2 separate regions of the Homo sapiens genome follow, and region 1 is linked to region 2. Evidence: fine-mapped expression QTL. A gene starts in region 2. The other region holds a variant in brackets. All regions are shown on one strand. Distances are from middle to middle.

The links. PIP is the estimated chance that this variant, and not a neighbour inherited with it, causes the effect.
Region 1: its variant is fine-mapped to the expression of PRC1 in lung (TOPMed, PIP 0.98).

The regions. Positions count from the first base shown.
Region 1 is chr15:90,958,891-90,975,294 of GRCh38, reverse strand. RCCD1 (RCC1 domain containing 1) reads right to left here. Exons shown (of 8, transcript NM_001017919.2): 5 at 15,297-15,395; 6 at 14,797-14,967; 7 at 14,241-14,270; 8 at 12,170-13,677. The coding sequence ends at 13,526. PRC1 (protein regulator of cytokinesis 1) reads left to right here. Exons shown (of 15, transcript NM_003981.4): 10 at 564-710; 11 at 1,049-1,159; 12 at 4,781-4,891; 13 at 5,672-5,848; 14 at 6,175-6,216; 15 at 8,093-9,255. The coding sequence ends at 8,164. PRC1-AS1 (PRC1 antisense RNA 1) reads right to left here and starts at 8,926. Exons shown (of 4, transcript NR_051984.1): 1 at 8,617-8,926. The variant T/A (reference allele first, on the strand shown) is at 8,667.
Region 2 is chr15:90,985,128-90,998,362 of GRCh38, reverse strand. PRC1 (protein regulator of cytokinesis 1) reads left to right here and starts at 3,828. Exons shown (of 15, transcript NM_003981.4): 1 at 3,828-3,956. The coding sequence starts at 3,946. LOC124903556 (a long non-coding RNA gene) reads right to left here and starts at 3,584. Exons shown (of 2, transcript XR_007064759.1): 1 at 3,428-3,584; 2 at 738-1,020. PRC1-AS1 (PRC1 antisense RNA 1) reads right to left here. Exons shown (of 4, transcript NR_051984.1): 4 at 9,739-10,733. RefSeq lists enhancers at 2,788-3,654, 3,655-4,522 and a silencer at 4,072-4,291.

The DNA of each region.
Region 1 (16,404 bases), 25 kb after region 2:
CCATCTCTACTAAAAAATACAAAAATTAACCAGGTGTGGCGTATGCCTGTAATCCCAGCTACTCGGGAGGCTGAGGCACAAGAATCGCTTGAACCCGGGAGGTGGAGGTTGCAGTGAGCTGAGATCGTGCCACTGCACTCTAGCCTGGGCGACAGAGTGAGACTGTCTCAAAAAAAATGTAAATTTGCTCACTGCTTCACAGCCAGTAAAGAGGGTGATTCCAGATTGAACCCCATTAAGTCTGATTTCAGAGTCCTGCTCCTAATGTTCACCGCCTATTTCATATTGCTGATCTTCCCTGTGCTGCCTCCAACTTCAGGCACCAAAACCTTAGTGGTCAAACTTTGGGTTCTTGCCATTTTCCACTCTTGTGTGTTGTGTGAATGAAATGTCTCCGGGCTTTGATTTCTGGTCACTCTGACCTGTACCCATGTGGGCCCAGCTACCTGAAATGAGGCTAATGATGCTCTGGGGAGGAGGAGTCACTCTCTAGGGAAATCATTTCATTTGGGCTTTGCACTAAAGAGTTGAAGTAATTAACATGTCCTTGTTTCTGGTCTCAGCTGGAAGAAGAGTTGAAGGCACGAATTGAATTGTGGGAACAGGAACATTCAAAGGCATTTATGGTGAATGGGCAGAAATTCATGGAGTATGTGGCAGAACAATGGGAGATGCATCGATTGGAGAAAGAGAGAGCCAAGCAGGAAAGAGTAAGTGTGAACGTGAACGCAAATTGGGAAAAGACGAAGAAAGTAATCTGAGCAGCCCATAGTCTCTGCCGGGGACCAGGGTTTGTGGAACAGGGAGCCGGGGACCGGGGCTTGTGGAACGGGAAGCCGGGGACCGGGGCTTGTGGAACGGGGAGCCGGGGACCGGGGCTTGTGGAACGGGGAGCCGGGGACCGGGGCTTGTGGAACGGGGAGCCCGCGGCAGCTCTTTAGCTCTGGCTGTAGAGACACGGGCCTAGATTCCCGGCCCTGCTGCTGTTGCCATCCCAGACCCGCTCTCTTCCTGAGATTTATCACTGTTGCTTCTGACTTTCACACAGCAACTGAAGAACAAAAAACAGACAGAGACAGAGATGCTGTATGGCAGCGCTCCTCGAACACCTAGCAAGCGGCGAGGACTGGCTCCCAATACACCGGGCAAAGCACGTAAGGTAAACACAAGGCTTAGGGAAACACTGATTTCAAGGGAGTGGGTGAGGGTAGTCCCAGCCACCTCTTTGAAGGGGGCCAGCCCCTCCACACCTGTGGGTATTTCTCATCAGGTGGGACAAGAGACAGAGAAAAGAAATAAGACACAAAGTATAGAGAAAGAACAGTGGGCCCAGGGGACCAGCACTCAGCATACAGAGGACCTGCACCAGCACCGGTCTCTTGAGTTCCCTCAGTATTTATTGATTACTATTTTCACTATCTTGGCAAGGGGAATGCGGCAGGAGGACAGGGTGATAGTGGGGAGAAGGTCAGCAGGAAAACGTGAGCAAAGGAATCTGTGTCACAAATAAGTTCAAGGGAAGGTACTGTGCCTAGATGTGCACGTAGGCCAGATTTATGCTTCTCCCCACCCAAACATCTCAGTGTAGTAAAGAGTAACAGAGCAGCATTGCCGCCAGCGTATCTCGCCTCCAGCCACAGGGCAGTTTTCTCCTATCTAAGAATAGAACGAACATAGGTACGTACGATCGGGTTTTACACCGAGATATTCCGTTCCCAGGGGCATGCAGGAGACGGAGGCCTTCCTCTTTTACGAATCCTCCTGAGCACAGACGACGGGTGTCGGGCTGGGGGATGGTCAGGTCTTTCCCTTCCCACGAGGCCATATCTCAGGCTGTCTCAGTGCGGGGAAATACCTGGACAATACCCAGGCTTTCTTGGGCAGAGGTCCCTGCGGCTTTCCGCAGTGCATCGTGCCCCTGGTTAATCGAGAATGGAGAATGCAGATGACTTTTACCGAGCATACTGCCTGTAAACATATTGTTAACAAGGCACATGCTGCACAGCCCTAGATCCCTTGAACCTTGATTCCATACAGCACATGTTTCTGTGAGCACAGGGTTGGGGCTAAAGTTGCAGATTAACAGCATCTCAAGGCAAAACAATTTTTCTTAGTACAGATCAAAATGGAGTTTATGTCTTCCTTTTCTACATAGACACAGTAACACTCTGATCTTTCTTTTCCCTACCTCTTGCCCTCTGTCCTGCAGAGATGGGAAAGGGTTTTTCTGTCCCTGCATGTCGAGTCCACTTGAGTGGATGGAAGGCTGAGTAGCGGCCTATAGTGACAGTCACGGAGTGGCCAGCTTTGGTGTCTGTGCTTGTTGCGTCCTTGCATTAAATTCGGGGTGCGGTGGGGGAATGATTGCCAACATTCTGGTAACGATGAAAAGAAAGCTTCAGCAGTTTTCCTGAAAACCTGTAATGCCATTTTCCCTGTAAGACCAAGAGATGGCCTTGTGGTACCATGTGAAAAACAACGTTCACGCTTACTAAATGGAAGATGTAATAATTCTTCATCTCTACAGCACAGTCAGAGAGGACTTTTTTTTTTTTTGAGATGGAGTTTCGCTCTTGTTGCCTAGGCTGGAGTGCAATGGGTGATCTCAGCTCACTACAGCCTCTGCCTCCTGGTTTCAAGCAATTCTCCTGCCTCAGCCTCCCAAGTAGCTGGGATTACAGGCATGTGCCACCACACCCGGCTAATATTGTATTTTTAGTAGAGACAGGGTTTCTCCATGTTGGCTAGGGTCTTGAATTCCTGACCTCAGGTGATCCACCCACCTTGACTTCCAAAGTGCTGGGATTACAGGCGTGAGCCACTGTGCCTGGCCTACTTTTTTCTTTTTGATAAATAAAAGAGTATTATTTCTTCTCTCTACTGCTATTTTATAACATTAAATTTATTATTTTTAGACAGTGTCTTGCTCTATCACCCACACCGGAGTGCAGTGGCGCCATCATGGCTCACTGCAGCTCAGCCTCCTGGGCTCAAGTGATTCTCTAACCTCAGCCTCCCATGTAGCTGAGACTTACGGGCACATGCCACCATACCCGGCTAATTTTGGGGTTTTTTTTTTTGTTGGTGGTGTTTTTTTTTTTTTTTTTTTGAGTTTCAGTAGAGATGAGGTCTCACTAAGTTGTCCAGGCTGGTCTCAAACTCCTGAGCTCAAGTGATCCTCCTGCCTCAGCCTCCCAAAGTGCTGGGATTACAGGCATGAGCCACTGTGCCTGGCCTAAAATGTGTTTTTTTTGGTTTTGTTTTTTTGAGACGGAGTCTCGCTCTGTTGCCCAGGCTGGAGTGCAGTGGCGCAATCTCAGCTCACTGCAACCTACACCTCCTGGGTTCAAGTGATTCTCGTGCCTCAGCCTCCTGAGTAGCTGGGACTACAGGCCCGCGCCACTATGCCCACCTAATTTTTGTATTTTTAGTAGAGATGGGGTTTCACTTTGTTGGCCAGGATGGTCTCAATCTCTTGACCTCAGAAGATCTGCCCGCCCCAGCCTCCCAAAGTGCTGGGATTACAGGCGTGAACCTCCACCTCCCGAGTAGCTGGGATTACAGGCATGTGCTACCACACCTAATTTTGTATTTTTAGTAGAGACGGGGTTTCTCCATGTTGGTCAGGCTGGTCTCATACTCCCGACCTCAGATGAGCCACCGTGCCCGGCCCCCTAGAATTTTTTTAATTAAAAAAAAAAAAAAAAAGTGTTGGCTGGGTACAGTGGCTCAAGCCTGTAATCCCACTACTTCGGGAAGCCAAGGTAGGGGGATTGCTTGAACTCAGGAGTTGGGAGACTAGGAAACATGTTGAAGCCCCATCTCTACTACAAATACAAAAATTAGCTGGTTGTGGTGGCACACGCCTGTGGTCCCAGCTACTCAGGAGGCTGGGGTGGGAGGATTGCTTGAGCCCAGGAGGTCGAGGCTGCAGTGAACCAAGATTGTACCACTGTACTCCAGCCTGGGTGACAGAGTGAGACCCCATCTCAAAAACATTTACAGCTCTTATCATTAGCATATAATAAGTTTTGACATATGTAGGTTTATACAATGAAACTGTCACCATAATTTAGATAATGAACATTTCATGGTCCCCAAAGTTTCCTAGTGCCTCTTTGTATTACCTCCCTCCTTCCCTGGCTCCTAGTTTGCCCCCAGCCTCTAGCTGTGGCGAGTAGGGATTTAGTCTTTAACTAACTATAGATTAGTTTTCATTTTGAAACATTTTACATAGAATCCCGCAGTACATATTCTTTTTTGTCTGGCTTCTTTCATTTAGTGTAGATTCATCTCTGTTGCTGTATGTATCAAAAGGTCACTCCTTTTTATTGTAGATCAATATTCATTCCACTGTATGAATTTACCACAGTTTGCTTGTCCACTTACCTGCTGATGGGTATTTGGCTGTTGCCAGCTTTTGGCTGCTGCAGGGAGCTGTTGTGAACATTTACGTCTAAGTCTTTGTATGGATCTATGCTTTCATTTCGTTTGGGTAGAAACATCTAAGAGTGGAATGGCTGGGTCATATGCTAGATGTCTTGTGCCACAGTGGTTGTACCATTGTACACTTCCATTTGCTGGATAGCAATAGGCTTTGAAAATTTTTCACAAGTTACTTCAAATCTATGCAGTATTAGACACAGCAGGCCCTTCACCATGTAAACCCGTCTTCCCTAGACTGCCTCCTCCCATAGTCATTTCTCTGTAGGGTAGACAGGTTGCTAGAAATGCTGAGGATGTTACTGCACATCAGTTACCCACGTGCTCTTCTCCCTAGCTGAACACTACCACCATGTCCAATGCTACGGCCAATAGTAGCATTCGGCCTATCTTTGGAGGGACAGTCTACCACTCCCCCGTGTCTCGACTTCCTCCTTCTGGCAGCAAGGTTAGTATGCCCTGTGTCTAAGCACATCCTCACATGCGTCCCTAGCCTGTTCACCCAGAGGCCCCACCTACTTGTTCTAGATTCTAAGATCCCTGGATTTGGTTCTTATTGAGATGCTGAGAGTTGACAGATATAAGCTAGCTCACCATTAAATAATGGTCCAAAACTAACGTGCAAAAAAAGAGAACAGTCACTCTGAGCCCCACTGGTACCATGGGAAGCACTGGGATGTGTCTGGGAAACTGAAGATCAGGCAGGGTCGCTGTAGACTCAATTCCAAGCCCAGTCCTCAGCTGGTATGGAGATAGGTCCCCTACATGTGGGTTCTAGCCCAGTGAAACCAGATCACTAGACATGCCAGGTACTCAGTAGAGATGTGGAAAGTATGTGGCAAAACACATTCAGTCTTTCAAATATTTTATTAGACTATGCTCAAGATAGGTGTTCTGTAAATCAAGAATTCATATTTAAAAAAAATTTTTTTCTAGAGACAGTGTTTTGCTATGTTGCCCAGGCTGGTCTCGAACATGTCGCCTCAAGCAATCCTCCTGCCTTGGCCTCCCAAAGTGTTGGGATTATAGGCATGAGCCACACCCAGCCCCATATATATATATATATATATATATATATATATATATATGTTTTTTTTTTAACTAAAAAGTATAGGATTATAGACATGAATATAAAGATAGTCTCAGCCTTTGACCAGTGCAGGTATTGTGTGTGCGTGTGCACGTTCATTAGAAGGATGATACATGGATCTCTTTCCTTTCTCTGCAGCCAGTCGCTGCTTCCACCTGTTCAGGGAAGAAAACACCCCGTACTGGCAGGCATGGAGCCAACAAGGAGAACCTGGAGCTCAACGGCAGCATCCTGAGTGGTGGGTACCCTGGCTCGGCCCCCCTCCAGCGCAACTTCAGCATTAATTCTGTTGCCAGCACCTATTCTGAGTTTGCGGTAATTCACCTTTTCTAATATCTACCAGTCTCTGGGGAGCACACAGTTGGGGCAGAGTGGGTATCTTCCCAGGGGCACCCAGGCTATTAGCTAGGGCAGCTACCTTGGAGGCTGAGAATCCCTTTCCTGCTTTGACCATGGCAGGGTGGGTGTGATTTAAGGGGGGGTTGTGTAGGAAGGAAGTTGGCAGCAGCAACTAGACATTTAACCTGGATCCTTCTGCTTAATACATACCATTCCCTGGCTGCAGGAGGCAACCCCTCTATCACTGTCCTGGTGCTCTCTTGGTGGAGTTCTTGGTAATTGTCTTAATTCTTTGTTCTTAGAAGGATCCGTCCCTCTCTGACAGTTCCACTGTTGGGCTTCAGGTCTGTATGGCAATCCCTGCATGTCCCTTTTCCAAACTGATCTGTCATCTGCTGGCTTCATTCATCTGGGCACAGGGCTACACTAACTAATAATCTCAGCAGTGTTACAAAGGAAGCAGGAATTCCTATCATGGACTCAAAAAAACACATCTGATTTACATTCACAACAGATTAATTAATAAAATTTGTTCAGACTTGAATTGGATTCTCAGCCCCTAAAGTCAGGCACAGTTTTAAATCACGTTTAACAGAAAACCTTGACCCTCCCCAATTGTGACATCAAAGGCCTGCAATAGCTGGAAAGAATAGAGGCCCCCAATCACATGGGGAAGGGAGCCCCAGCTGTGTGCTGCCTACAATGAGGCTCTTGGCCTGTGTGCTGATTATTTCCTGGAGTATATGCCTTCCTAACCCCTCAGGGCTTAACCGCCAGCTCTATTCTCAGCTAGCTAATGCTGATTTCCTCACCTTTGCCTCTTTCCATACATTGAGCTACTGAAGCATAGATGAAGCACTGGAAGCAAGTTTTTCCAGAATGCTCTTCACTTCCTAGTATCCTACTCTATATTTGCTAACACCTAACTACACTGCCTTTTACTTAATCTGTGATTTCTTCTCTCAATATTTTACTAGCAAGAGGAGAGGATGTTCCTCACCCTTGAGGGGATATTGAGTTAAACCCCTAGCCTGCCTCCCCTCTTAATTGCTGCAGGGATAGAGAATGGAACAGTTGGCCAAGGCTGCAGCTAGTTTTGATCACTGAAACTGGCTTCCTACTCCAGCATGTTTTTCAAATTACGTGGCTGGTGGTGCTTCTACCTTTAAAAGTGGGTGTGTGTCACTCTGGCTGATTGCTGGACAGAGGTCCAGCTTTCTCTTTTTCGCTTGTTCAACCAAGGCCCATTTTATCTGAGGCTTAAATGTACCTGCCTATCTGTGTGGCTAGTCCTAGGTAGGTTCGTCTGGTTTGGGTTGCTATGGCTGATAGACTCCACCAGGCAGCACCAAAGCCGGTAAACTAACCTCTGCTAATATCTGTCTTTCTCAATAGCCATTCATGCTTTATCTTTTGCTGCTCTACCATGTGCTCCAGCATGAGATCAAATCACCAGCAGGTTACAAGGCCTCAGCCCCAGGGATTGGTAGATATATGTTCTGGCCCATTGTTTTATAAAGGGCTCAAGAGACCAAAGCTTGTTGCCTACTTACCTTGACAACTCTAAAGTAGCTCTGTGAAGTAGAGTCATGCCTCGCTTAATGACAGGGATATGTTCTGAGAATGTGGGGCAATTTCATTGTGCACATATCAGAGTGTACTTAACAGTCCTAGACAGAACAGCCTACACACCTAAACTATATGGTATGGCGTTTTCCTCCTAGGCTACAAACCTGGGCAGCATGTTACAGAAAGAATACTGTAGGCAATTGTGGGTTTTTTTGATTCAGGCTATTCCTGGGATACTGTAGGCAATTGTAACGCAATGGTAAGTATTTGTGTATCTAAACATAGAAAAGGTACAGTAAAAATATGGTATAATCTTATGGGACCACCATAGTGTATGTGGCCTGTCGTTAACTGAAACATCATTATGCAGTGCATGACTGTATGAAGGATTTCTCTTCTGTGAGGTGTAACAGAATGGACTGGCTGAGGAAAAAGGGGTCACGGGCATGCGTGCACATGCACTCTGTCTGTGACTAATAGAATGGTGCTCAGAGTTCCTCACCTTTTACTCCTAACGCAGCCTATTGCAGGCTAGGGATCTCAGAGAAACTACCTTCAAGGGACCTTTTGCTGACACTTAACCAAACTTAGAAGGGTGGGCCATGTGTAAGAGAGGCAGTATGGCCACTGATGTTATTTATTTTTCAACAGCGAGAACTTTCAAAGGCTTCCAAATCTGATGCTACTTCTGGAATCCTCAATTCAACCAACATCCAGTCCTGAGAAGCCCTGATCAGTCAACCAGCTGTGGCTTCCTGTGCCTAGACTGGACCTAATTATATGGGGGTGACTTTAGTTTTTCTTCAGCTTAGGCGTGCTTGAAACCTTGGCCAGGTTCCATGACCATGGGCCTAACTTAAAGATGTGAATGAGTGTTACAGTTGAAAGCCCATCATAGGTTTAGTGGTCCTAGGAGACTTGGTTTTGACTTATATACATGAAAAGTTTATGGCAAGAAGTGCAAATTTTAGCATATGGGGCCTGACTTCTCTACCACATAATTCTACTTGCTGAAGCATGATCAAAGCTTGTTTTATTTCACCACTGTAGGAAAATGATTGACTATGCCCATCCCTGGGGGTAATTTTGGCATGTATACCTGTAACTAGTAATTAACATCTTTTTTGTTTAGGCATGTTCAATTAATGCTGTAGCTATCATAGCTTTGCTCTTACCTGAAGCCTTGTCCCCACCACACAGGACAGCCTTCCTCCTGAAGAGAATG[T/A]CTTTGTGTGTCCGAAGTTGAGATGGCCTGCCCTACTGCCAAAGAGGTGACAGGAAGGCTGGGAGCAGCTTTGTTAAATTGTGTTCAGTTCTGTTACACAGTGCATTGCCCTTTGTTGGGGGTATGCATGTATGAACACACATGCTTGTCGGAACGCTTTCTCGGCGTTTGTCCCTTGGCTCTCATCTCCCCCATTCCTGTGCCTACTTTGCCTGAGTTCTTCTACCCCCGCAGTTGCCAGCCACATTGGGAGTCTGTTTGTTCCAATGGGTTGAGCTGTCTTTGTCGTGGAGATCTGGAACTTTGCACATGTCACTACTGGGGAGGTGTTCCTGCTCTAGCTTCCACGATGAGGCGCCCTCTTTACCTATCCTCTCAATCACTACTCTTCTTGAAGCACTATTATTTATTCTTCCGCTGTCTGCCTGCAGCAGTACTACTGTCAACATAGTGTAAATGGTTCTCAAAAGCTTACCAGTGTGGACTTGGTGTTAGCCACGCTGTTTACTCATACAGTACGTGTCCTGTTTTTAAAATATACAATTATTCTTAAAAATAAATTAAAATCTGTATACTTACATTTCAAAAAGATATAGTGTGGTGTTTCCTTTTTTTCCCCAGTCACTTTTTAGTTGGTTGGTCTGTGTGTGAAAAACAAACACAAAAAACTAAAAGGACCTCCTGGAAATTTTTAGTCAGGAGTGTGATTTTTTTTTTTGAGTCTCACTCTGTCGCCCAGGCTGGAGTACAGTGGCACTATCTTGGTTCAGTGCAACTTCCACCTCCCAGGTTCAAGCGATTCTCCTGCCTCAGCCTCCCGATTTGCTGGGATTACAGGCACGCACCATCACACCTGGCTAATTTTTGTATTTTTAGTAGAGACAGGCTTTCACCATGTTGGCCAGGCTGGTCTTGAACTCCTGACCTCAGATGATCTGCCTGCCTCCCAAAGTGCTGGGATGACAGGCATGAGCCACAGCACCCGGCCGAGTGTGATTTTTAAAATATTCTCTGGTACATTTCTAAATTAAGAATATCTCTTACTCTAATTTTTTGGTGAGAAATATAAAACCTAACCCCTGATGTGTAGAGAGCAAAGGGAGTCCTAGGATGCTTCTGGCTTCAATGCCGTTTGTCTCAATATGGGGAGGCTGCCCAACTTCAACAGCGTTACTGAAGGAGGATGGACATAAACTGCACACATGTGAAGCGTAAGAGAAAAACCATCGCCACAGTCCAGTTAACCAAGTCTCTCTACCCCAGCAGTTCTTCCCACCCCTTTCTCACTCCTCCTTCCCAGCCTCACCCTGCCGAGCAACCACTGATTTTTTTTTTTTTTTTTTTTTTTTTTTTTGAGATGGAGTCTCGCTCTTGCCAGGCTGGAGTGCAGTGGCACAATCTCAGCTCACTGCAATCTCTGCCTCCCAGGTTCAAGGGATTCTCCTGCCTCAGCCTCCCGCGTAGCTGGGACTGCAGGCACGTGCCATCACGCCTGGTAAATTTTTGTATTTTTGGTACAGACAGACAGGGTTTCACTGTATTAGCTAGGATGGTCTCGATCTCCTGACCTCATGATCCGCCCACCTCGGCCTCCCAAAGTGCTAGGACTACAGGCATGAGCCACTGTACCTGGCCCACCGATTTGTTACTACAGATTAGTTTGCGTTTTCTACAGTTCGATGTAAGTAGAATCATACAGTATATATTTTTTTGGTCTGGTTCTTTCACTACTTTCAGATTTACCCATATTGTTGCTTATATCCATAATTCTTTTTTTTTTTTTTTTTTTTTTTTTTTTTTTTTTTTGCTTAGTATTCCATGGTGTTGATATACCAGTTTATTCGCCTGTTAGGTTTATTTTTCACATTTGGCTTTTCTCCAGTTTTTGGCTATTAAAAACAAGGCTGTTATAAACATTCATGTACAAGTCTTTGTATGGATATATTTTTTTTTCTGGATAAATACCTAGGAGTGAAATGGCTGGATCACATCTATGGTATGTGTACACTTAACTTTTTAAGAAATGCCAAACTGGGCCGGGCATGGTGGCTCACGCCTGTAATCCCAGCACTTTGGGAGGCTAAGGTGGGCAGATCACGAGGTCAGGAGTTCGAGACCAGCCTGGCCAACATGGTGAAACCCCATCTCTACTAAAAATACAAAAATTAGCTGGCTGTGGTGGCACACACCTGTAATCTCAGCTATTCAGGAGGCTGAGGAAGGAGAATTCCTTGAACTCAGGAGGCGGAAGTGGCAGTGAGCTGAGATTGCACCACTGCACTCTAGCCTGGGCAACAGAGCAAGACTCCATCTTAAAAAAGAAGAAATGCCAAACTGTTTTCCAAAGCAGTTGTACCATTTTACATTCCTACCAGTAATGTATGAAGGTTCCAGTTTCTCCACATCTTCACCAACAGTTGGTATGTTCAGCCTTTATGTAATTCTAGTTATTCTGTGTATGGAGTGGTGTCTCACTATGGTTTTCATTTACAACTCCCTAATGACTAATGATGTAGAGCATCTTCTCATATGCTCACTTGCTATCCTTCTGTCGTCTTTGTTGACTTTTGTCCATTTTAAAAAATGGCTTGGCCAGGCATGATGGCTCATGCCTATAATCCTAGTACTTTGGGAGGCTAAGGCAAGTGGATCGCTTCAGCCCAGCAGTTTGAGACCAGCCTGGGCAATATGCAACAACCCCATCTCTACTAAAAATACAAAAAACTAGCCAGATGTGGTGGCACGTGCCTGTAGCCCCAGCTACCCGGGAGGATGGCTTAAGCCCAGAAGGTGGAGGCTGTACTCCAGCCTGGACAACAGAGAGACCCTGTCCAAAAAAAAAAAAAAAAACCCACAATGAAATACCACTTCACACCCATTAGGATGGCTGTTAACCAGAAATAGAAAACAAGTGTGGACGCGGATGTGGAGAAATTAGGATTTGTGTGCACTTCCAGTGGGGATGTAAAATGATGCAGCCTCTGTGGGAAACAGGGCAGTTCCTCAAAAAAATTTAGAATTACCACACAATCCAGCAATTCCACTCTGGGTATATATCCAAAAGAACTGAAAGCAGAGACTCAAGAGAGTTGTACACCCATGTTCCCAGCAACATTATTGACTGTAGTGAACAACTCAGATATCCACCAATGCACGGATGAATAAAACGCAGTGTATACATACAACAGAATCTTAGCCTTTAAAAGGCAGGAAGTCTAGATACATAAGCTACATCATGGATGAACTTGGAGGACATGCTGCTAAGTGAGATAAGCCAGTCATAAAAAGACAAATACTATGGGATTTCACTTACATGAGGCACTTACAGTATCATAGGAACAGAAGGTTAGGACTGTGGTTGCCTGGGGCTGGGGAAGGGGAGACTGACGAGTTAAGTGTTTAATGCACAGAGTTTCAGCATAGAATGATGAAAAAGTTCTGGAAATGCATAGGGGTGACGGTTGCACAACAGTGAATGCATATAATGTCACTGAACTATGTACTTAAAATGGTTAAAAACAATTTTTGTTTTTTATTGAACATAAATTTTATGTTCAGTATATTTTACCACAATAAAAAAGACCCCATGGGTGGGAAACATTTGCTAAACCACAGACACACACATGCACAAATAGAATTTAACTATAAAGAAAACTACTGATAAGCTTATTTTATCAAAATAAGTTGATACTTGTAAAGCACTTTGAGCCTTACCTGGCATGGAGTAAGCATCACCTAAGTATTAAAATTGGTAATACCAAGAGAGACTGAAACAAACTACATTGTAGCAGAAGATACTCTGAATACTAACTCTCAAAAGACTTGTATCTGAAATATCCAAAAGAAAAATCACTAAGGAAAATACAGAACATTTTAAAAGGCCAGAAAACTTGAACAGGCACTTGACAACAGAAAAACTCCAAGTGGCCAATAAACATATGAACTCTTCGCCTCAAGCAATCTCCCTGCTTAGCCTCCCAAAGTGCTGGGACTACAGGTGTGAGCCACCATGCCCAGCCATCCAAAACAAATGAAAAGCTACTCAACCTCATCAGTATCCAGGGAAATGCCAATTAAAACCAGTGTGCATCTACCTGACATTTTAGCCACAGTAGACCCCACCCTGCTGGGGGCAACAGTTATCTAGTAAAATTAAAGGTATCTCCTGACTTAGCAATTCAACTCAATGTTCTGCAAAGGAACTTGTGCACATGTGCAGAAGACTGCACAAAGAATTATGTGGAATGACCAAAATCAGAAACAATAAAAATGACCATCAACAAGGCTGTATCACTTGAGGTATTATTCATACAACAGAACACCATATAGCATTAAAAATGAACTCCAGGACCCAACAAGGATGGATTATACAATGCTGAGTGACAAAAACGACACAAAAGCACATACACAGGATTCCATTTATCTAACACTCAAAAGCAAACACAACTATGTCGTATAAGGCTGCATACAAGAATGGTAAAATTCAAACGAAAGCAGGGAAATGACTGACAGAAGACGATGACCTGGAATGTGCCCCAATCTCAGCTGCACATCAAATGTACCTGGGATGAGGTGGGTGGAGCTTTGAATCTACCACTATCCAGGCCACACACCTAGAAGCTCTGGTTTCATTGTTTCATTGATTTCATTGTTTTGATTGATGCTGACCTTAGGCAGCAGAGTTTTCAATGCTCTCCAGGTGTTTCTAAAGTGCAGACAAGTTTAGGACCGTGCTTGAGGGTGAAGGGCAGGACTGTGATGGGGAGGGGCAAATATGGGGCCCTTGGGGTGCAGGCAATGGTTTTCCTTGACCTGAATGGGGGTCTCACAGGTGTTGCATATACATATACGTACACATGTCAGCTCTTCCCTTTCTCCACAGCATACACGTAGGTGTTCCACGGCCCACAGGTGACAGCCTTTACTTGGAGTTGCTTATCTACAAAGTATTCCACACGGCGAGGCCGATCCAAGCTGGTGGTGTCCTCGTGGCCCAGCTGTCCATATTTACCTAAAGTGAAATCAGCCCCTTTGCCATCGTCTCCACTGGGTCTTGCTGCTGCTTTCCCTCCAGGAAGGGGCCCAGACTATCAAATGAAGTGCTGGGATTATGCCCCACTGCTCTGTGAATCCAAGAGACCCAGAGCCAGGCAACCTTGGGGATCCCCAAGAGGCTAGTGGCGACCAGCCACTCCAGGCAAGACGCTCCTCCAGACTTCCCTGCTATCCAAGCTAAGATGTTCAGAGCACACACTTCCATCGAATCTTTTTCTCCACCCAGTGTCACATCCACAAAAAGCTGCTTTGTAAGTGCTGGTTGGATACTCCCTTAAGACAGTCTTTCAGAGAGGTAGGCGGGTGGTACCGATATCCTCTCCATGTCTCCCCTGTCTGGCCTCGGACTGAGCGCGCCTATGTCTGTTCCAACCCCAGGGAGGGAGCAGTCCTGTTCCTCCCAGTGACCTGGCCGAGGCCCCTGCTTCCTCCAGTCTTGTTGGCTTTGTCACCTGCCCTGTACTCCCAGGTCTTTCTTCTCCTTGGTTTCAGGGTCACAAAAACAATCCTTTTACTTACCCCAGCCCCAGGTGTAGAGCTCCCCTGTTCCTGAAAGCAAAAGGACAATCGATAGTTGTCACTACGGTTCTTTGGCAAGGCATCTGTCCAGCCCAGCTTGGCACAGCCCACAGCTAGCATATTACAATCCTCATGAGATCTGCCTGGCATGGAACAACATATTCTCTTAACAACTGGCTGATCACACGTGGCATGGCAGAGGATCCCGAGGGAAAAAGTGGCGGATCTTCCTGTGTGCCATGCTACCGAGCGCCGCAGTCTTCCATGCCAGACTGGACAGTCCCTGCTGTCAGAGGCGGCGGCGGGCAGGGAATGTGTCTGTGGCCGTGCAGGGAGGACAGAAAGCATCAGCCTCCCACCAGAAGGAAGAAACTTCTGGGCCTGACAGGCTGGGGAACTACTGTGAAACAACAAGGGGGTTGGGGCTTATCCACTGAGCAAGGTAGCTGCTCTGTATGAGCCACAGAAGCCTTAAGACAGAAGTTTTTCCGTCGACCACACCCCCTTCCGTAGGCACCAGCTCGAGTGGAGCAGAGTGCCTCCCAGCCCCACTCACGTGTCACCACAGCTGTGTGCCGGGATCCACAGCTGGCCTTGACTGCATCTGAGCCCATGGGGAGATCCAGTAATGCCGGGAAGGGCTGGACAGCTATGAAGGGGGCAGGGGCTCCATCCTCAGCCCCACCCGTTCTCTTCACCTGAGAACCATCTTCATTCAGTTCTGTGGCTTCAGAATGATAATAATGATGTGAACACCAACTGAGCCCTGAGCTAAATCTTATTCATGCAGTCACTTATTGCCACAACAGCTCTGAGGTACACGACTGCCTAGCTCCAAAGCTGGTGCTCCCAACCCCTACATTCTGCAGGCAGGGCTGGCACTGCTGCACAAGTGTGTTGTGCCAAGACCGGCATCAGCCTTGCCAATGCTCCCTCCCATAAGGGGCTCACATGCTCCATCTGAGCAGTGTAGCTCTGAGGCCAGCATACAGCCAGGAGTTAGGAATGACAGCCACATCCTGGGGAGACGGCTGTGGGAGCCGAGATGACCCTCACCTTCCCTTGCGACAGTCTCTCCATCCTCTGCCAGGTTCCTGGTGGGCAGGGCCAGCTGCCCTGATTCATTCCAGCCCCAGATATAAATATCCCCAGTCTCTGAAAGAGATCAAGGGGACACATGAAACAGACTGTGAAGCCCCTGCATCCATCCAAACTCTCCTCCCCATCGCATCCGCTCCTGGGGACAACTAAAGCCTGCCCTGCCCAAGGTAGCACTCCAGGCCAAGGCGCTTCCCCTCGGGCCCCAGGGGCTTGTCTTAGGTTCACATCCCCTCAATGCCTTCAGATCACCCTTTAAGTCCCTTACTGGACCTTCTACTTCCATTCTTATGCTGCCAAATAGCCCCTCATTTCAGAAATGTATCCCTAGAAGTACCGCAGTGGTCTCCCTTTCAAAACCACTGGGCCAGGGCCAGGTGCATTGGTTCATGCCTGTAACCCAGCACTTTGGGAGGCTGAGATGGGTAGATCACTTGAGCTCAAAAGTTCGAGACTAGCCTCAGCAATATGGCAAAATCCCTGTCTCTAAATAAGTAAATAAAACAACCACTGGGCCGGCCTGTGCCCCTTTTTCAACTGCACCCACAGCCGGTCCTGATGAAAGCCACGTGCAGCTCTCCCCTTCCTGGCCTCCCACAACACTGGAGCTTTTTGGTTGGAACAGCTGCCTAATTCTAAAAATTTCTAACAATAGCTGCTTTATGAAGTGCTTAATCCATGCTGATGTTTCACATGCTTTTCAAATATAATCACTTAATTCTCACAATAGCCCTACAGGTGGTTTTATGACAATATCACCATTTACGCAGGATCCCTATTTTATTCACAACTGAGGCACAGAGGGGGTTAAGTACCAGGCCCGAGGTCCCAGGGCCCGAGCAATGATCTGAAACTAGGAAGTCTGGTGGGATGTGTCCGTGCTTCAGCCTCTACACTAAACTTAAGGCCTCAAACTCCTTCTGGACCTTGAGTGCAGGGCGTCCCACTGGGCTGTTTCCAGCCCTCTGGTCTCTCCAGCCCAAGGTTGGGGTTTTTTTTTTTTGTTTTTTTTTTTTTTTTAGACAGACAGAGTCTCACTCTGTCACTCAGACTGGAGTGCAGTGGT
Region 2 (13,235 bases):
TGCAGAATGAAAGATTGTGTGCCATTAGAGCCATTTCAGGCATCAGCAAACAGTGCTCCTATAAATGTGCCAGCACCCTCCTCATTACTGATGCTAGTAGCCTTTCTCTCTCTCTTTACCTTTTAAAAATGATGAAATATAGGCCAGGTGCTGTGGCTCATGCCTGTAATCACTGCACTTTTGGAGGCCGAGGCAAGAGGAACGCTTGAACCCCGGAGTTTGAGACCAGCCTGGATAACATGGGAAGACCCCGTCTCTACAAAAAATAAAAAAATTAGCCGAGGGTGGTGGCACACACCTGTATTCCTAGCTACTGGGGAGGCTGAGGTGGGAGGATCCTTTGAGCCCAGGAGGTCGAGGCTGCAGTAAGCTGTGACCTTGTCTCAAAAAAAAAAAAAAAAAGAAGGAATTACAACCACCTATATTAGTGGCCTCTTTTCAGGCCTCTTCCAACTTGATCTCACTGATGACTATGCTTTCCTTGAAATTGTCTTATTCAGCTTCCATAATACCCTTTCTTTGTCCTCCCACAGTCTCTTAGGTTGTTCTTTGATTACTCCTCTCTGCTCATCCCATTTGCTGACATCTCCCCTCTCTCTGTCCTTTGTTGTCATCCACTTCCAGATCTCAAGCCTTCATCTCACTCCTTAGCGCCACACAAGTATTTCCTACCTGGTCATTCCACAGGCACTTCAAACTCAGCATGTACAAAATAAACTCATGAGTGGAAGCTCCTGTCCCTACTTGAATCCTTTAATCTGCTCTTCTTCCTGTATTCCCAAACTTTGTTCAAATGAGCAAAAAATTGTATTCTTGACCTCAGATTTTTTCTTTCTATGCCCCACCTTCAGCTGGTTCCCTTGTGCTATTGGTTCTTATTTCTAAATGTCTCTAGTTCATCTTCTCCTCACCATCCCTACGACAGAGGTCTTTATTGTCTCTTGCCTGGGTTTTTGCAAGAGTGTGCCTCCCAGCTGCTCATTCTTCCATCTGTTCCCCATTCCACAGTGCTGCCACTTACTAAAAGGAAGAAAGAAAATCAAAACCTGAGTTACTGGATCATCAAAAGTATTCTTCCTATAGAATAATGATCATTCTGGGCCCCGCACGGTGGCTCACACCTGTAATCCTAGCACTTTGGGAGGCCGAGGCAGGCAAATCACTTGAGGTCAGGAGTTTGAGACCAGCTTGGCCAGCATGGTGAAACTCTGTCTCTACTAAAATATAAAAATTAGCCAGCTGTGGAGGCGCGCACCTGTAGTCCCAGCTACTCATGAGGCTGAGGTGGGAGAATCGCTTGAACCCAGGAGGCAGAGGCTGCAGTGAACCGAGATCATGCCACTGGACTCCAGCCTGGGCAACAGAGCAAGACTCTGTCTCAAAAAATAAATAAATAAATAAGAATAATGATAATTCTGTATAAGAATATATTCCAAGGAAAAGGCATTCCTCAAGCATCTAGCTAGAATTTTGAGTGTTATGTCAAGCTAGTGTGCAAGACCAAAGACACTGCCAACAGGGCTGTTAATTCACAGAAAGAATAGGTGGCATCAGAAAAAGATTAAACAGTGGCAAAACATTGCACTTCCATCCAGTAGAAATATATGACCCTGTAATAGGATTTTTTTTTTTTTTTTTTTTTTTTTTTGAGAAAGGGTCTTGCTTTGTCGTCTAGGCTGGAGTGCAGTGGCGTGACCATGCCTCACTGCAGCCTTGACCTCCTGGGCTCAAGTGATCCTCCCACCTCAGCCTCCCAAGTAGCTGGAACTACAGGCTCATACCACCACACCTGGCTAATTTTTGTATTTTTTATAGAGACAGGGTTTTGCCACAGTGCCCAGGCTAAGGTCATATATTATAAACGCGTATTACACAGTGTTTTACATGCTGCGTTTATGCTCTGAATGGATATCTTTGCATCAGTTCTATGACTTTGTTAGCCTCAGCACCTCAGTGTAAAGGACAAGAGAGAAAAAATTGCCTTTTCTTTGGATACTTCATAATGCTGGTGCTAAGAACAAGTATGAAGATCACAAATTTGTGAAGCTTTCTGAAAAGCTCTCCTGTTAATTTAATCAACAAAGAATGCAAGTAAATTTTAAAAGTAGTGCTACCATCTACTCTATTAGTGGTGTCAATGTTAATCACAGAGTGCAAGGAAATTGAAAAAGTGGTGCCTGTCGCCCACTGTGTTGGTGCTGTGAATGTTTGGCATGCTGCTGACAAGTTAAAAAGAACATGGAAGCCGGGCGCGTTGGCTCACGCCTGTAATCCCAACACTTTGGGAGGCCGAGGCAGGCGGATCACCTGAGGTCAGGAGTTCAAGACCAGCCTGGCCAACATGGCAAAACCCCGTCTCTATTAAAAATACAAAAAAAAAAAGTATCCAGGCATGGTGGTGCGTGCCTGTAGTCCCAGCTACTCGGGAAGCTGAGGCACAAGAATTGCTTGAACCCAGGTAGCGGAGGTTGCAGTGAGCTGAGATTGGGCCACTGCACTACAGCCTGGGTGACAGAGCGAGACTCCGTCTCAATTAAAAAAAGTAAAAAGAACATTGAAAGCACTAATGAAGTTTTTCTGAAAATAAGAAAAATATGGTTCTGAAGGTGAAGCAAACAAGCATCCTTTACCTTTAGGGAAAAGGCATATGAAGAGGATTCACTTAAGTTACAGTTGGCCAATAAACACGAAAAATGTGCAATTTCAATTATAATCAAGTGCCAAACAAGGAAATGCCAGTATTATTATTTTACCTACAAAATGAGCAAAGATGTTTAGAAGTACAATAGAATTCAGCCCTGCTGAGGGTAACAAAAGGAGGGTACTTTTCCGGTGAGGCTTTGTGCAGAAGGCAAATTAATAAAGGGAGCATTCAGTAATTACACCTCTAGGAATCAGCCGTACGAAAATGCAGGATGCATTTATAAATACATACATACACAAAGATTTATGTATGAAGATATTCAGCCCAGCCTTATCTTTTAAATTATCATCTAAATATCAATAGCAGAATGGGCGAGATATCTACACACCAGGATTCATGCCACCATGCCACCATGAATCACTGGGAAAAAACGGTGATATATAAGCATTTAGGGATGTAACATGTTCATCGAGGAAAGGAGGCTACAAAAGTAATGTCTATTTTGAGTTTTAAATTTTTCATGTAACGATTTAGAAACTCATCTAATTTGATAACGTGACTTAGGCAAATCATTCAAATCTTTTTGCGTTTCCTCTGCAATGGCGATTGTGGAGGTTAAATGGGATAACTGGCGTTGAAACGTTCCAGGCCCATGAGCAGGACTCAATGTTCCTTCCCTTCCCCTTTAGTGTATGGCTTCTTACATCTGGGGAAGAGTCCCACCAAAGATCGATTCCAAGCTTCGCTTCTTGGATGAGCGAGGGAAACTAGGCGCTAACTTACCTATTCACCCCCGCGCCCGTTCCCGGCAGCCGGGACTCAGGGAAGCCAGGTAGCCGCGGTGCTCTCAACTCCCTCCCCGCCCGCGCACTTCGAATCCAAACTGCGCGGGGCGAGGCGGGGCGGCGCTCCGATGAGGTAGCTGGCTTGGGAGAGGAGTCCCTTGAGGCTGCCGCCAAGCCAGGGAAGCGGGAGGCGCAGGCCACGCCCGGCCACTCACAGACAGTGACGTCATCCCCCGCCGCCACTCCGGCGCTTCCCAGGCCCTGCTCGCGAGTCCCCACCCCGATTGCGCACCCGCGACTTCAGCCCGAGGGGCGGGGATTTTCTTGGAGCGACGGGACGCGACGCCAATCGCGACGAGGCTTCGCCCCGTGGCGCGGTTTGAAATTTTGCGGGGCTCAACGGCTCGCGGAGCGGCTACGCGGAGTGACATCGCCGGTGTTTGCGGGTGGTTGTTGCTCTCGGGGCCGTGTGGAGTAGGTCTGGACCTGGACTCACGGCTGCTTGGAGCGTCCGCCATGAGGAGAAGGTGCGGGTTGCGGGGAAATCGAGGGGACGCGGGAGGGAGCGACGCTCGTTTCGGCTGCGGGGCCTGTTCAGGGGTGCGGGACCCGTGCGGGGTCCCGGGCCTAGATCGTCACGGCAGTCGGCGCCGAGGGAGGCCGGGGGCGCTGAGGGGCAGGGTCTGGAGGCGGCGAGCCAGTGCGAGGGCCGCGGCGGTGAGACCTGACGCGCTGTCCGCCGGCGGCCGCAGGTGCCCGCAGGCTCAGACGCCCGGGTGGGAGCCGAGCGCCGGTGCCCGGACGCGGCAGGGTAGTCGAGGCCCGGGGCCCGGGGCGGCCTCCACCCAGGCGGTCAGCGCTGGCGCTCGGACCCCACCCTCCCCGCCCGCAGCGTCTCAGGTGCCGCTGCTTGGCGCAGATGACTCGTTGTAAACCTTCTGTGGTCGTGGCTTTTCTTTAAAGCTGTTAAGTTTATTTATCGTTGTTTTTCTTTGTTTTATTCTTTTTTTTTATTTTTGTGGAAACGCGGTCTATGTTGGCCAGGCTGGTCTCGAACTCCTGGCTTCAAGTAATCCTGCCACCTCGGCCTCCCAAAGTGTTGGGATTACAGGCGTGAGCCACCGTGCCCGGCCCGTTGTTTTTCTTTATATCTGGCCAGCGGTGTTAACGTTTTGTTTGAATTGGAAAGATAGCTTTGTTTCTTTGCAAGTTAAGAAACGGATTATGGAATTCTTTTCCGGTCGTTTTAATAACTTCCTAGGCGGTGTTGGGGAGGGACTGTCCGACTTGAAATCGGGACCAGACGGTGACACTGCCACTTACCAACCTTGTGACTTCCAAATATTAACTTTATTTTCTAAAAGTTGTGGATGCAGTTTTCTGATGATACAGCGTTAAATAATGTGTAGTTTTTGGTGGAACTGATTGTTCTAAGGCTTTGTAAGATTCTTCATTTCATGATCACTAATTCTGATCAGTCTTTTTAAAATGCTTGCCCTCAGAATAATGAGAATTGAGTGCCAACATGGTAAAACCTTGTCTTAACTAAAAATACAAAAATTATCTGGCCCTGGTGGCGCGCCTGTACCCCCAGCTTTTCAGGAGGCTGAGGCAGGAGAATCGCTTCAGCCTAGGAGGCAGAGGTTGCATGAGCCGACATCTCGACACTGCACTCCAGCCTAGGCGACAGAGTGAGACTACGTCTCAAAAAAAAAAAAAAAAGTCCATTAACAGTTTATGAATTATGTAGGCATCTCCTCTATCAAGGGATTGAATGAAGCAGGAGAAAACTTACCCTTTAATGTTGGTTCCAGGCTAATGGATATAATTAACTTTTTTTTTTTTTTTTTTTTTTTTTTTTTTGAGACGGGGTCTCACTCTGTCGCCCAGGCTGGAGTGTAGTGGCGAGATTGCTCACTGCAGCTTTGACCTCTGAGGCTCAAACGAAACTCTGGCCAGAATTAATTATGGTTATCGATCCCCGAAACAGGTTGAACTGGAGATCAACAAAGCTCCTTCTCTGGAATGCTAAGAAAAAATAGGGCAGTGGATCAGTGAAGGCTGCCTGAAGGTAGAAAATAATTTAAGGACCACTGTGAGATACCTTCCAGTCCAGTGATTTATGTTCAAGACTGGAAAAACTGACTCATTTTACAACCTTTTTGTCCTTGAGTGGTAGTCTTTGTATGCACTCTTGATTTTTTTCAGTGAATCTAAAAAAAAAACTCAGACTTGCTGCTTTTAGGGGATTATCTGAAACAATTTAGCCAGGGAGTATTTAAGTGTATCATGATAATTGTTCATAATGATTGCTCTGAAGCATCTTAAGATCATACAACTTTTTTGAAATGTCACGTTATTCATTCAAAAAGACTTCTTGGGCCTGGCACAGTGGCTCACACCTGTAATCCCAGCACTTTGGGAGGCCAAGGTGGGAGGATGACTTGAGCCCAGGAGTTCAAGACCAGCCTGGGCAACATAGCAAGACCCTGTCTCTATTTAAAAAATAATAATTTATACTAAAAAAGAAAAGAAAAATACTTCTTGAATGTTTGTTATATACAAGGAACCATTGCAAGTGTTGGGGATATAGCAGTGAGCAAAAGTGACATCCCTGCCCTCACAGAGTTTATATTCTAATAGCAAAAGAGGAGTGTAATAAATAAGTTAGTCTTAAATGGTGGTAAGTGCTATGTAGAGAAATCAAGAGGTTAAGAAGTACTGAAGGTGTAGGAAGGGGGGTTGTGGTTTTAAAGAGATGGGTCAGGAAAGGCCTCCCTGAGAAGGTGATCTCTGAGCAAAGACCTAAGAAGGAAAAGGGTGAAGCCATGCAGCATGGGGGAAAAGAGATCTAGGTAGAGGAATCAGCAAATCCAAGTGCCCTAAGGGGAGATAGCGCCTGGTATGTTCCAGAAAGAGCAAGGAGGTCGCTGTGACAGGAATAGAATGAGCACTGAGGTCAAAAGAAATGGCTTTCAGATGGAATGGGGCTCCATAGGTCTTTGGAAAGTCAGAGGCTTTTCCTTAGAGTGAGATGGCAAGTCGTTGGAGGGTTCTGAGTAGAAGATTAGGACTTGGGGCTCCTGTGTTGACAATGGACTTAAGGAGGCCAGCTTCGAAGCCGGGAGACCAGTTAAGAGGCCCCTGCCATACAGCAAGAAGTTGGTGGTGGTGACCTGGACCAGGGTGGGGGTGGTAGTGGTAGCAGCAGAGGTCAGGAGGAGTGAGATTCTGCCTGTCTTGTGTAGATAATGCTAATGGCGGGCATATAAGAAAGAAGTGTCAAGGATGATACAAGATTTAAGTTTAAAAAAAAAATTAAGTTCAGTACAATTTGAATGTTAGGAAGAGTGAGAAATGTTAGTTTTTAATTTGAAAATGATCCTCTTACAGGAAGTGTCTCTAACTAGAATAATAATAATGGGTGTTTGGTAATTCCAAACACCCATTTCCAACAGGCCAAATAAAATACGTTATATATTAGTAAAATTTTTATTTCTTTTTTTTTTTGGAGACAGTCTTGCTCTGTTGCCCAGGCTGGAGTGCAATGGCATGATCTCAGCTCACTGCAACCTCCGCCTCCTGGGTTCACCGGGTTCAAGTGATTCTCCTGCCTCAGCCTCCTGAGTATCTGGGATTACAGGCACCCACTACCACGCCCAGCTAATTTTTGTATTTCTAGTAGAGATGGGGTTTCACCATGTTGGCCAGGCTGGTCTCGAGCTCCTGATCTCAGGTGATCCGCCCGCCTTGGCCTCCCAAAGTGCTGGGATTGCACACGAGCCACCGCGCCCGGCCATAGTAAAAATCTGTAAGTTTTTCAATTAAGTCACAAATCAAAAACATTTCAGATTATGGGCCGGGCACAGTGGCTCACGCCTGTAATCCCAGCACTTTGGGAGGCCGAGGCGGTCGGATCACGAGGTCAGGAGTTTGAGACCAGCCTGACCAACATGGTGAAACCCCGTCTCTACTAAAAATACAAAAATTAGCCGGGCGTGGTGCCGTGTGCCTGTAGTCCCAGCTACTCAGGAGGCTGAGGCAGGAGAATCGCTTGATCCCAGAAGGCAGAGGTTGCAGTGAGCTGAGATCACACCATTGCACTCCGGCCTGGGTGCCAGACTGAGACTCTGTCTCAAAAAAAGAAAAAAAAAAGAAACCAAAAATGTTTTAGATTATGTGCCAAGATGTTTTTAATAACAGCTTTGAGGTATAATCCACATACCATACAATGTACTTAAATTGTATATTATAATTCAGTGATTTTTAGAATATTCAGAGTTGTGCAATCATCACTGCAATCAATTTTAGAACATTTTTATCACCCCTTTAAAATCCCATTAGCAGTCAATCCCCTTTCACCCCATGGTCCAAATTCTCCCCAGCCGCAACTACAAATCTACTTTTCGGCTAGGCAAGGTGGCGCACACCTATAATTCCAGCACTTTGGGAGCCCAAGGTGGGAGGACTACTTGAGCCCAGGAGTTCAAGAACAGCTTGGGCAACATAGAGAGACTCTACCTCTTAAAAAAAAAAAAAAAATTATTTATTTATTTATTTATTTATTTTATTTTTTATTTTATTTTATTTTATTTTTTGAGATGGAGTCTCACTCTGTCACCCAGGCTGGAGTGCAGTGACGTGATCTCAGGTCACTGCAACCTCCACCTCCCGGATTCAAGCAATTCTCCTGCCTCAGCCTCCCGAGTAGCTGAGATTACAGGTGCCCACCACCACACCCAGCTAATTTTTGTATTTTTAGTAGAGACGGGGTTTCACCATATTGGCCAGGCTGGTCTCAAACTCCTGACCTCGTGATCCGCCGGTCTTGGCACCCAAAGTGCTGGGATTACAGGAGTGATCCACCGCACCCGGCCTAAAAAAAAATTTTATTGTTTAAGTTAGCTGGGTGTGGTGGCTCACATCTGTAGTCCCAGCTACTCCGGAGGCTCAGGTGGGAGGATCACCTGAGCCTAGGAAGTTGGGGCTGCAGTGAGCCATGATCATGTTACTGCACTCCAGCCTAGGTGAAAGAGGGAGACCCTGTCTCAAAAAACCATACAAACCCCAAATCTACTTTTTACCTATTCTGGATATTTCATAAAAACGGAACCGTAGCTCTGGTCTTTTGTGACTTGCTTCTTTGACTTAACATAATGTTTTCAAGGTTTATTGCCAAATAATATTCCATTGTATGCCTATATACTACATTTTATTTACCCATTCATAAGTTGATGGCCATTTGTATTTTTTTTTTCACTTTTTGGCTATTATAAGTAATGCTGCTATAAACAGTTGTGTAGTTTTTGTATAAATGTGTTTTCATTTCTTTTGGGCAAATACCCAGTAATAAAATTGCTGAGTTGTATGAACTCTGTTAAACTGAGGGGCCGGGTGCAGTGGCTCATGTCTGTTATCCCAACACTTTGGGAGGCCGAGGTGGGAGGATTGCTTGGGCCCAGGAGTTCAAGACCAGCCTGAGCAACATGGCAAACCTTAAAAAAAAAAAAAAAAAAAAAAATTAGCCAAGCACGATGGCACGTCTATGGTCCCAGCTACTTGGGAGACTAAGGTAGGAGAATTGCTTGAGCCCAGGGCGTTGAGGCTGCGTTGAGCTATGATCACACCACTGCACTCCAGCCCAGGTGACAGTGAGGCCCTGTCTCAAAAAACAAAAAATCAATTGAGGAACTACCAGACTATTTTCCAAAGAGGCTGTACCGTCTTGCATGCCCACAAGCAGTGTCTGAGGGTTCTAGTTCCTCTAGATTCTCACCAATACTTTTTGCTATATATTTTTTTTTATTATACCATCCTGTTGGCTATGAAGTGGTTTTGATTTGCATTTCCCTAATGACTAATATTGAGCATCTTTTCATGTGCTTATTGGCCATTTTTATATCTTCTTTGGAGAAATGTCTATTCAGATTCTTTGCCCATTGTGCTAGATTTTTTTACTCAGAAAAACGATCACTTTACCTTCTAGATGTGTTACAGAGATAGGCAGCCCTGCTTGTAAACCTTCGTCAGGATCCAGAGTGCATAATACCTCTATTAGGTTAGGTAGGTTAGGAGCATAGGACCCTTTGGGAGGAATTCAGGGCCATTCATTTTATATCTATTGAACAACTACTGTGAGTTAGGGTGTGGTAAAATGAAGATGAATAAGATGTGGTGGTCCTTGCCCTTGAGTTTATGGTCTACTAGGGGGCTTGGGGGGAATGGTGAGTGACAAGTCCACAGCTCTCCAGAGGAGGTGGTGGCATATAGACGGAACTGAATGTACAAAGCGCGGTGGCATCAGAAAATGAGAGTTGCATGTGGTTTATTGAGGGGCATTGTTCAGGAAATGCCCGGGAAGTTCAGCTGGCCAGAGACCTGGGGAGTGTCAAGTGGGAGAGATTAGCAGACAGACTCGGAGAGAGGTTTTAGAAGGCCTTTCTACAGAAGGTGGTTGAACTATTTCCTGAGGGCAGTGGAGCCTTTGAAGGGGAGTAGTTAAGCGGGGATCTGATGGGATTTATTATGAACAACTAGCTGTTATGTGGAGATTGGCTGGGCAGGGGTAGGTCTGTCAGACTGAGGAGACTGGGATACTTAAGTAATGACCTTCAGAGCAGTGCCCCTGGCTGGCCTGTCTGGAAGCCAGGGTTTTGCATCCAGATCGAATATTGGCCACAGATTGGATCTTAAAAGTTATTTTTAATAAAATGGTAATATTAGGATTTTAACTTGTGCATTCTTTTGTCTTCAAAATGAAGTGCAAAAGGAGTGTTTGCCTGGGGAAGCTCTTTAGTTGGACTTTAGTTGAGATTATGTTAAATAAATGCCTTACTTACTGTTAACATTTCTCTTTTTTTCCTTTAAGTTCTGTTGGACTTGAACTGTTAACATTTCTAAAGTGAAGGGAGTACCGTAAATTCTTTTAAACGTTTGTCAGTATTTGGGTATTGGTATGGCCATCTGGTATAGGCAACAGGTATTTGTGTAGAAATGTTTCTTCAACAAGGACGGGCAACCTCTAAACTAGGATTTCGTGGCTGGAGATATTTTGGATGTGAATGTATTAACAGCTTTGGAGAGACACATTGTTAGAGATCCAGGCTGGTGACTTGTAGAACCACCGAAAGCTCTGAGACAGAAAGGGGCTAATGAAAGTCTCTAGTTGCAGTTGGGTGTGGATGGCACACAAAGACCTTAAGTGTTTAGGTGATTTGCTGCAGGCTTCTCGGCCGACTGGAAGCAGAGCACATCTAGATTGTAGTTTCTCTGGTGCCAGGGCAGTCTTAGTTGTCCTGTTATACCTAAGAAAAGGGAGAAAAATTTCTATTCTTTAAATGTTCTGTAAAGCAGACTAATTGTGATAATTTTTAAAGTAAGCTGTTCTTAAAAGATAAGATACAGAAGCCAGTTAAATTTGTATTTTAGATAAATAATTTTTTGTTAAAATAAGCTTTTGGTAATTGAAGAATAACATACATTCAGAAACGTACAGAAATCAAGTGTAAACTCAGTGAATTGTTCACAGTTGATGCACCTGTGTAAGCAGCAACCCAGAAGCCCTCTACCAGTCACTGCCTCCCCTGAGCCAAAAGAACTACTATCCTGACTTCTGAAAGCATTGATTAGTTTGGCCTGGTTTTGTTTTTGCTTTTTTTGTTTTCGTTTTTGAGATAGGGTGTTGCTTTGGAGTGCAGTGATCATAGCTCACTGCAGCCTCATCCTCTCAGGCTCAAGCAATCCTCCCACCTCAGCCTCCTGAGTAGCTGGGACTATAGGCATACGTCACCGTGCCCGGCTAATTTTTTTTTTTTTTTTTTTTTTAAGACGCAGAGTCTCACTATGTTGCCCAGAATGATCTGAAACTCCTGGGCTCAAACAGTTTTCCTGCCTCGGCCTTGCAAGGTGCTAGGAATACAGGCGTGAACTACCGTGCCTGGCCAGTTTTGCCTGTTTTTGAACTCTCTGTCAACGGAATCACATAGTGATACACATTTGCATATCTAGTGGCATTTGCTCAGCCTAAAGTGTTTTTTTTTTCCTTCCTCTTCCCCTTACAACTATTTTTTAGTTGTTTATTTTACTTCATTAAAAAAATGAAAAGATTTGAGGTATAATTCATACACAGTAAAACAGACTCGCTTTACAGGTAGTTTCAATTGTATACTGTTGTATAATCGCCATCAAGATCTAGAACTATTTCATCACCCCAAAAAAGTAAAATAAATAAATAAATAAAATAGAAATATAATAATTTGAGCTTTATCCATATCATGTGTAGTGTGTTCATTTTCTTTTTTGACAGTTTCGCTCTGTCGCCCAAGCTGGAGTACAGTGGTACAATCTTGGCTCACTGCAACCTTGGCTCACTGCAAACCCTGCCTCCCGGGTTCAAGCGATTCTCCTGCCTCAGCCGCCCCAGTAGCTGGGATTACAGGCGCACCACCACACCCAGCTAATTTTTTGTGTTTTTAGTAGAGACAGGGTTTCCCCATGTTGGCCAGGCTGGTCTCCTGACCTCAAGTGATCTGCTCCCCTCGGCCTCCCAGAGTCCTGGAATTACAGGTGTGAGCCACTGCACCCAGCCAGTTTGTTCATTTTCATTGCTGCATTAGTGCATTGTAGGAATGTACTATTCATTCTGTTGATAGACATCTAGGCTGTTTCTGTTTCCCTGCTATTATGAGTAGTGCTTCTCTAACCATTCTCATATATGTCTTTGGTGAACGTATGTGTTCATTTCTGCTAGGTATGTATGTAGAGGTAGAACTGCTGGGTTCAGCTTTAGTAGATAGACTGCCAACAGTTTTTAAAATAGTTGTACCAATTTACACCATGCCAGCAGCATATGAAAGTTCTCACTTTTCTATATACTCACCAACACTTAATGCTGTCTTTTTAACTTTAGCCATTCTTTGAGCTGCTAGTTGTAATTTAAGAAGAATAGGCCAGGCATGGTAGCTCACGCCTGTAATCCCAGCAATTTGGGAGGCCGAGGCAGGTGGATCACTTGAGGTCAGGAGTTCGAGACCAGCGTGGCCAACGTAGTGAAACCCCATCTCAATGGCTTTTTAACTTTAGCCATTCTTTGAGCTGCCGGTTGCAATTTAAGAATACTAGGCCCGGGCGCAGTGGCTCATGCCTGTAATCCCAGCACTTTGGGAGGCCGAGGTGGGTGGATTTTTGTGTTTTTGTAAAAATACAAAAATTAGCTGGGTGTGGTGGCACACACCTGTAATCTGAGCTACTTGGGAGGCTGAAGCAGGAGAATCACTTGAACCTGGGAGGCGGAGGTTGCAGTGAGCTGAGATCTCACCACTGCACTCCAGCCAGGGCAACGGAGCGAGACTCTGTCTCAAAAAAAAAAAAGAAAATAAAAATAAATAAATTAATTAAATAAAATGGCAAGGCACAGTGGCTCACATATGTAATCCTAGCACTTTGGGAGGCCGAGGAGGGCGGATCACTTGAGGCCGGGAATTCAAGACCCACCTGGCTAACATGGCGAAACCCCAACTCTACTAAAAATACAAAAATTAGCTGGGTGTGGTAGCACCTGCCTATAGTCCCACCTACTCGGGAGGCTGAGTCAGGAGAATCATTTGAACGCAAAAGGTAGAGGTTGCAGTGAGCCAAAATTGCACCACTGCACTCCAGCCTGGGCGACAGAGCAAGATGCTGTCTCAAAAAAAAAGAAAAAACAAAAAAAAAACACCAAAAAAATAGTAATAAATTGCCAAACATTTTGCAGGAGTTTCTCACCAGCAAGTTCTTGTGTTAGTTTATTTTACCAACATCTTTTGTCC